Linked DNA regions of Homo sapiens. Changing the gene in region 1 together with any one later gene gives a genetic interaction. Each region holds a gene or a part of one and is shown on either strand. Other genes may lie near its edges.

What was found. Genes that interact genetically often act in the same process or in processes that back each other up.
Region 2: changes in PGD (region 1) and DLST together harm fitness more than expected from each alone (negative genetic interaction), as found in Homo sapiens cells (one large-scale study listed by BioGRID).

What each region holds. Positions count from the first base shown.
Region 1 is NC_000001.11:10,418,436-10,421,061, forward strand, and holds the end of PGD (6-phosphogluconate dehydrogenase, decarboxylating), read left to right. Parts: intron 1-390; coding exon 391-490; intron 491-981; coding exon 982-1,104; intron 1,105-1,194; coding exon 1,195-1,314; 3' UTR 1,315-2,076; downstream 2,077-2,626. UniProt on the Homo sapiens protein: Catalyzes the oxidative decarboxylation of 6-phosphogluconate to ribulose 5-phosphate and CO(2), with concomitant reduction of NADP to NADPH.
Region 2 is NC_000014.9:74,888,309-74,891,960, forward strand, and holds part of DLST (dihydrolipoyllysine-residue succinyltransferase component of 2-oxoglutarate dehydrogenase complex, mitochondrial isoform 1 precursor), read left to right. Parts: intron 1-786; coding exon 787-839; intron 840-966; coding exon 967-1,041; intron 1,042-1,588; coding exon 1,589-1,644; intron 1,645-2,747; coding exon 2,748-2,859; coding exon of another isoform or gene 2,860-2,918; exon of another isoform or gene 2,919-3,652. UniProt on the Homo sapiens protein: Dihydrolipoamide succinyltransferase (E2) component of the 2-oxoglutarate dehydrogenase complex. The 2-oxoglutarate dehydrogenase complex catalyzes the overall conversion of 2-oxoglutarate to succinyl-CoA and CO(2).

The DNA of each region.
Region 1 (2,626 bases):
CTAGGGTATACATCGGCTTCCAGCTTACTTCCCTGTTAGAGTTAAGATTCATTGCATTTGGCCGGGCGCGGTGGCTCACACCTGTAATCCCAGCGTTTTGGGAGGCCGAGGCAGGCGGATCACGAGGTCAGGAGATCCAGACCATCCTGGCTAACACGGTGAAACCCTGTCTCTACTAAAAATACAAAAATTAGCCGGTTGTAGTGGTGCGTGCCTGTAATCCCAGCTACTGGCGAGGCTGAGGCAGGAGAATCGCTTGAACCTGGGAGGTGGAGGTTGCTGTGAGCTGAGATCGTGCCACTCCACTCCAGCCTGGTGACAAAGCGGGACTCCGTCTCAAAAAAAAAAAAAAAAAGACTCATTGCTTTTTTCCCCCCTTGATTATTTCAGTGTATTCCTAGGAAAGATAAAGGATGCATTTGATCGAAACCCGGAACTTCAGAACCTCCTACTGGACGACTTCTTTAAGTCAGCTGTTGAAAACTGCCAGGTATGTAGCCTAGGGCTGGTGCCATGGTTACTCTACCTCCCTGGGGCCATCAGTTGTGATGTTTGGTTTTTTGTTTTTTTTTTTTGGTTTTTTGTTTTTTTGAGACAGAGTCTCGCTCTGTCACCCAGGCTGGAGTACAGTGGCATGATCTTGGCTCACTGCAACCTCCGCCTCCTGGGTTCAAGCGATTCTCCTGCCCCAGCCTTCCTAAGTAGCTGGGACTACAGGTGTGCCAACATACCTGGCTAATTTTTTTTTTTTTTTTGTATTTTTAGTAGAGATGGGGTTTCACCATGTTGGCTAGACTGGTCTTGAACTCCTGACCTCGTGATCCGCCCACCTCAGCCTTCCAAAGTGCTGGGATGACAGGCGTGAGCCACCGCGCCTGGCCTAACCATCAGTTTTTCATTTACCCACATTGATATGAATGAAAATCTATCCGCGTCACCAGGGGCAGATCACTAATCTCTGGCCGTGCGTTTTGTGCTCAGGACTCCTGGCGGCGGGCAGTCAGCACTGGGGTCCAGGCTGGCATTCCCATGCCCTGTTTTACCACTGCCCTCTCCTTCTATGACGGGTACAGACATGAGATGCTTCCAGCCAGCCTCATCCAGGTAAGCCTGTGGAGCAGGGATTAACCTGGCTGGCCCCTCGGGGGCGTGCGCCATGGACTGTCCTGACCAACCTACTCTCTCGTTTCCTAGGCTCAGCGGGATTACTTCGGGGCTCACACCTATGAACTCTTGGCCAAACCAGGGCAGTTTATCCACACCAACTGGACAGGCCATGGTGGCACCGTGTCATCCTCGTCATACAATGCCTGATCATGCTGCTCCTGTCACCCTCCACGATTCCACAGACCAGGACATTCCATGTGCCTCATGGCACTGCCACCTGGCCCTTTGCCCTATTTTCTGTTCAGTTTTTTAAAAGTGTTGTAAGAGACTCCTGAGGAAGACACACAGTTTATTTGTAAAGTAGCTCTGTGAGAGCCACCATGCCCTCTGCCCTTGCCTCTTGGGACTGACCAGGAGCTGCTCATGTGCGTGAGAGTGGGAACCATCTCCTTGCGGCAGTGGCTTCCGCGTGCCCCGTGTGCTGGTGCGGTTCCCATCACGCAGACAGGAAGGGTGTTTGCGCACTCTGATCAACTGGAACCTCTGTATCATGCGGCTGAATTCCCTTTTTCCTTTACTCAATAAAAGCTACATCAGACTGATGCTCTTTCTCCAGATTCTTAGTCTCACCTCGGCCACATGGAGCCATTATCCCCATTGGCAGAAAGATTTTTCTTTAAAAAAAAAGACTAGAATAACACAAGAAACCACATTTAGGATTATGCTTCACTCAGAGGAGGCAGGCAGGGAGGACACACCAGGGGCTTTAATACACTGGGCATGTTTTCTTTCTCCAATTGGGCAATGGGTACATGGACGTTCACTGTAACGTGCTTTTTCTTTCGTCTTTTTTTTTTTTTTTTTTTTTTTTGCTCCTGGCAAGCTGTGCGTGACATTCTTTATGGCTTTTTGTATGTCAAATACTTCATACTAAACTTTCTAGAGAATTAAACTTTAATGATGGGCTCAGCTTGGTCTGATTTATTTCCTTTCCCACACCTGTCTCTACTTGCTCTAAGCCAGGCCCAGGGATTTTGAACAAGCTAAGCCGGCTCCTTAAACTAGGCTTTTCACTTTATCTTACTTACTCAGAGAAGATAAAACCTGCCAGTGATATTGTTGTGTGGCCTGGGGCCAGTGTGACTGTTCCCTGCAGCGGTTTGACTTCATGATGATTTCCCTGGAGTGTTAAAGTCCTAAGAGTTGCCTAAGAGGAGCGAGCAGCGCCTGTGCCTCGACAGCTGGTGTCTACAGTGTGACCTCTGACCTCTCGGCTAATGTCAGTGAAGGAGACAATTTTCATTAAATCACCAACTTTTAATTTATTTTTCTTTTTTTTGAGACAGAGTCTCGCTCTGTCACCCAGGCTGGAGTGCAGTGGCGTGGTCTTGGCTCATTGCAAGCTCCACCTCCCGGGTTCACACCATTCTCCCACCTCAGCCTCCAGAGTAGCTGGGACTACAGGTGCCCGCCACCACTCCTGGCTTATTTTTTTGTATTTTTAGTAGAGACGGGGTTT
Region 2 (3,652 bases), on another chromosome or scaffold:
TTACTTCCGAGTTAACCTTGTTAATCTTGCTGCCTTATCTGATCTAAATCTGTTATCTTGAGGGCAGAAATTCCATTATACCTTGCACAATGGCTTGTACCCTGGGCAGGCCGTAAATCTATCTCGGATTTAGTTAAGGAAGAGACCTGGCTGGACATGGTGACTCACTCCTGTAATCCCAGCACTTTGGGTAGGATCTTTGAGACCCGTCTGGGCAATGAAATCCATAGTCTACAAAAAGTAATTTAAAAAAATTATCTGGGTGGCATGTGCCTGTAGTCCCAGCTACCCGGGAGGCAGAGGTGGGAGGATCCCTTAAATCCAGGAGTTTGAGGTTACAGTGAACTATTATCATGCTACTGCACTCTAGCCTGGGTGACAGAGCAAGACTCTTATCTCTTAAAAAACAAAAAACCAAATCAAGAAGCTAAGTCATTTCGGTCTGCAAAGGACCAAGGTGCTTATTTTTTTATTGAAAGAGCCAAATGTAAGTCTGTTTTGTGAGAGTTGGCATTGCATTGCAGCACAGGGGCCTGAGCATACTTGGGGAGCTCACCATTTAAGGTACCTGGGTCGTTAGGCTCTACTCCAGACCTGCTGAGTCAGAATCCCTGGGGGAGAGGCCTAGACAAGTGAACTTTGAAAAAGTTCCTCCCCAAGTGACACTGATGGACACCCCTGGTCAAGAGTCACTGTTTAAGGGGAAGGTGACCCATGGGGCCTTAACTAGACTAAAATGTGAGTGGTTCGCCTGTTAAAAGGAGTTAACGTGTGTTTCTTTTGTAGCATTAACAACAGTGTCTTCAGTGTTCGCTTTTTCAGAACTACAGCTGTATGCAGTAAGTACCTGCTTTCTTGGGAATGGAATTTTATGGGAAGAGCAACAATTGATTGAGTTTAATTAAAGAAAAATATTAAAAAGGAAAAATGAACTACTTATGATTTTCTTTTTTGCATTTTTCCTAGAGGATGACTTGGTTACAGTCAAAACCCCAGCGTTTGCAGAATCTGTCACAGAGGGAGATGTCAGGTGGGAGAAAGGTAAGATTTAGTTTCCTATTTTTTTTTTTTTTTTTTTTGAGACAGAGTCTTGCTCTGTTCCCAGCCTGGAGTGCAGTGGTATGATCTCGGCTCACTGCAGCCTCTGCCTCCCAGGTTCAAGTGATTCTCCTGCCTCAGCCTCCCGAATAGCTGGGATTACAGGTGCCCACCACCATGCCTGGCTAAGTTTTTTGTATTTTTAGTAGAGACAGGGTTTCACCATGTTGGTCAGGCTGGTCTCAAACTCCTGACCTCAGGTGATCTGCCCACCTCAGCCTGCCACAAAGTGTTGGGATTACAGGCCTGAGCCACTGCGTGAGCCACTGCGCCTGGCTCCTCTCACTTCTTAAGTTTAAGTGCTATCTAAAATTCTCCCCTCCCCTCAGGATAGTTGTAGAATTTATAGCTCTGCCGTTTTCTTTACATATGTACTTTCTGCTGGCCCTGTAGGAAAGGGTTCTTATAACATACCTGCCAAAATGGGTTTTGTGGCTACTGGAGGCTCCCCGCTAACAGGTAGCCTTGTAGCCTTTGATTGTCTTTTCAGCTGTTGGAGACACAGTTGCAGAAGATGAAGTGGTTTGTGAGATTGAAACTGACAAGGTAGGCTTATCTTATATTCGTACCAGCTTTTCATGGGCTTCCCTTAGTTAACCTAATGAAAGAAACAGGGACTTAACCATTGTTTAGAGATAATTTTTAACTAGCTCTAACTTCAGTTGTAAAATTATTGGATTTGTTCAATTTAAAAAAAAAACAACTTTTTACATTTAACTTTTTTTTTTTTTTTTTTTTTTTGAGACAGACTTGCTCTGTTGCCCAGGCTGGAGTGCAATGGCCTGATCTCAGCTCACTGCAACCTCCACCTCCTGGGTTCAAGCGATTCTCCTGCCTCAGCCTCCCTAGTATCTGGGCTTACAGGCGCATGCCACAACGCCGGGCTAATTTTTGTATTTTTTGTAGAGACAGGTGTTGCCAGGCTGGTCTCAAACTCTTGACCTCAGGTGATCTGCCCGCCTTGGCCTCCCAAAGTGTTGGGATTAGAGGCATGAGCCACCGCACCTGACCTGCATTTAACTTTAAATTGTTTGCTGTGTGTGTACTATGTACTTCATTTAGTAGCTTTAGTCTTGTAGTGTGTGGTGAGGGGGTGGGGAGGGTAAATAAGCTGTTTCCACTTTTTCCTGTATCACTTGGAAACATATTAACTGAATATTGCCTGAATGTTTCTGAGAAAGGACAGAAAGTGAATCTTCACAGTAGCGATGACTTGTTATCACCCTTGCTCTGAAATTATGGCCTTAGATGTTTGTGTGCAAGGCCTTATATATTGTGTTGCAACTCTTGTTACTCACTGGAGATACGCTGTTGTTGTTGTTGTTTTGAGACGTTTCGCTCTATCACCCAGGCTGGAGTGCAGTGGCACGATATCGGCTCCACCTGCCAGGTTCAAGCGATTCTCGTGCCTCAGCCTCCCAAGTAGCTGGGATTACATTTTTGTAGTTTTTAGTAGAGATGGGGTTTCACCATGTTGGCCAGGCTGGTCTTGAACTCCTGACCTCAAGTGATCCGCCTGCCTTGGCATCCCAATATGCTGGGACTACAGGCATGAGCCACTGTGCCTGGCTTCATTGGAGATTCTATACAGCTAATTTTCTAATGCTGGATAAACATTTGGACTTCCTCCATCTGTCTTCCTCTTCCAGACATCTGTGCAGGTTCCATCACCAGCAAATGGCGTGATTGAAGCTCTTTTGGTACCTGATGGGGGAAAAGTCGAAGGAGGCACTCCACTTTTCACACTCAGGAAAACTGGTGGTAAAGAAGTTCTCCTGGTGGTCAAGGTCTCCAGTGTTCCCTCTTGGGATTGGGACTGAGCATAATGTGCTAATTCCCCGATATGTCAAAGACTCTTGTCATTCCAGCTGCCCTTAGTTGAGGGAATAAGGGGTAAATTTATATATAGTGTGAACTTCAAATGTCAAATTCTAAAAGAAAAGTGTATTTTTTAAAAAATAAACCTTATACTCTGTTCTTTCCATGGGTGTTTCTTAGCAGGAGCTGAGAAACTGGACCTTTTCTTATAGATATACAGATTGAGCATACCTAATCTGAAAATTCAAAATCTGAAATGCTCCAAAACTGAAAATCCAAAATCTGAAATGCTTCAAAACTTTTTGAGCACTGACAGAATGCTCAAAGGAAATGCTCATTGTCTTTTATGGGGAATTCAGTGTTGTTTCTTTTCACATCTGTTCTCTCATATCTCTAGGAAGGGTTGGTATTTCTTTTGGGAAGAAATGAGAAACGAATTTGTACTGGACCTGATAGGATTAGAGATTAATAACTTTATCTGACTCTTAGTTAAATTTTATAACCACTAAAAAGTCTATTTCTTTTTCCTAAGCGAGAATCGTACCCGTAGACCAACGAGTCACAGAAGTCTATTTCTTTTTCACTGTTACACTAATAAGGCAGATAGACCGCATGATTGAGGTTAGTCAGGCAAGACCAGAAGCTCAGAGTAGAAAACATGTATGGTAGAAGGCTGGGAAATAAGGTAGTCCTCCTGTTGCAGAAGTTTGTCTTAGCACTAACCCTGGATATAATG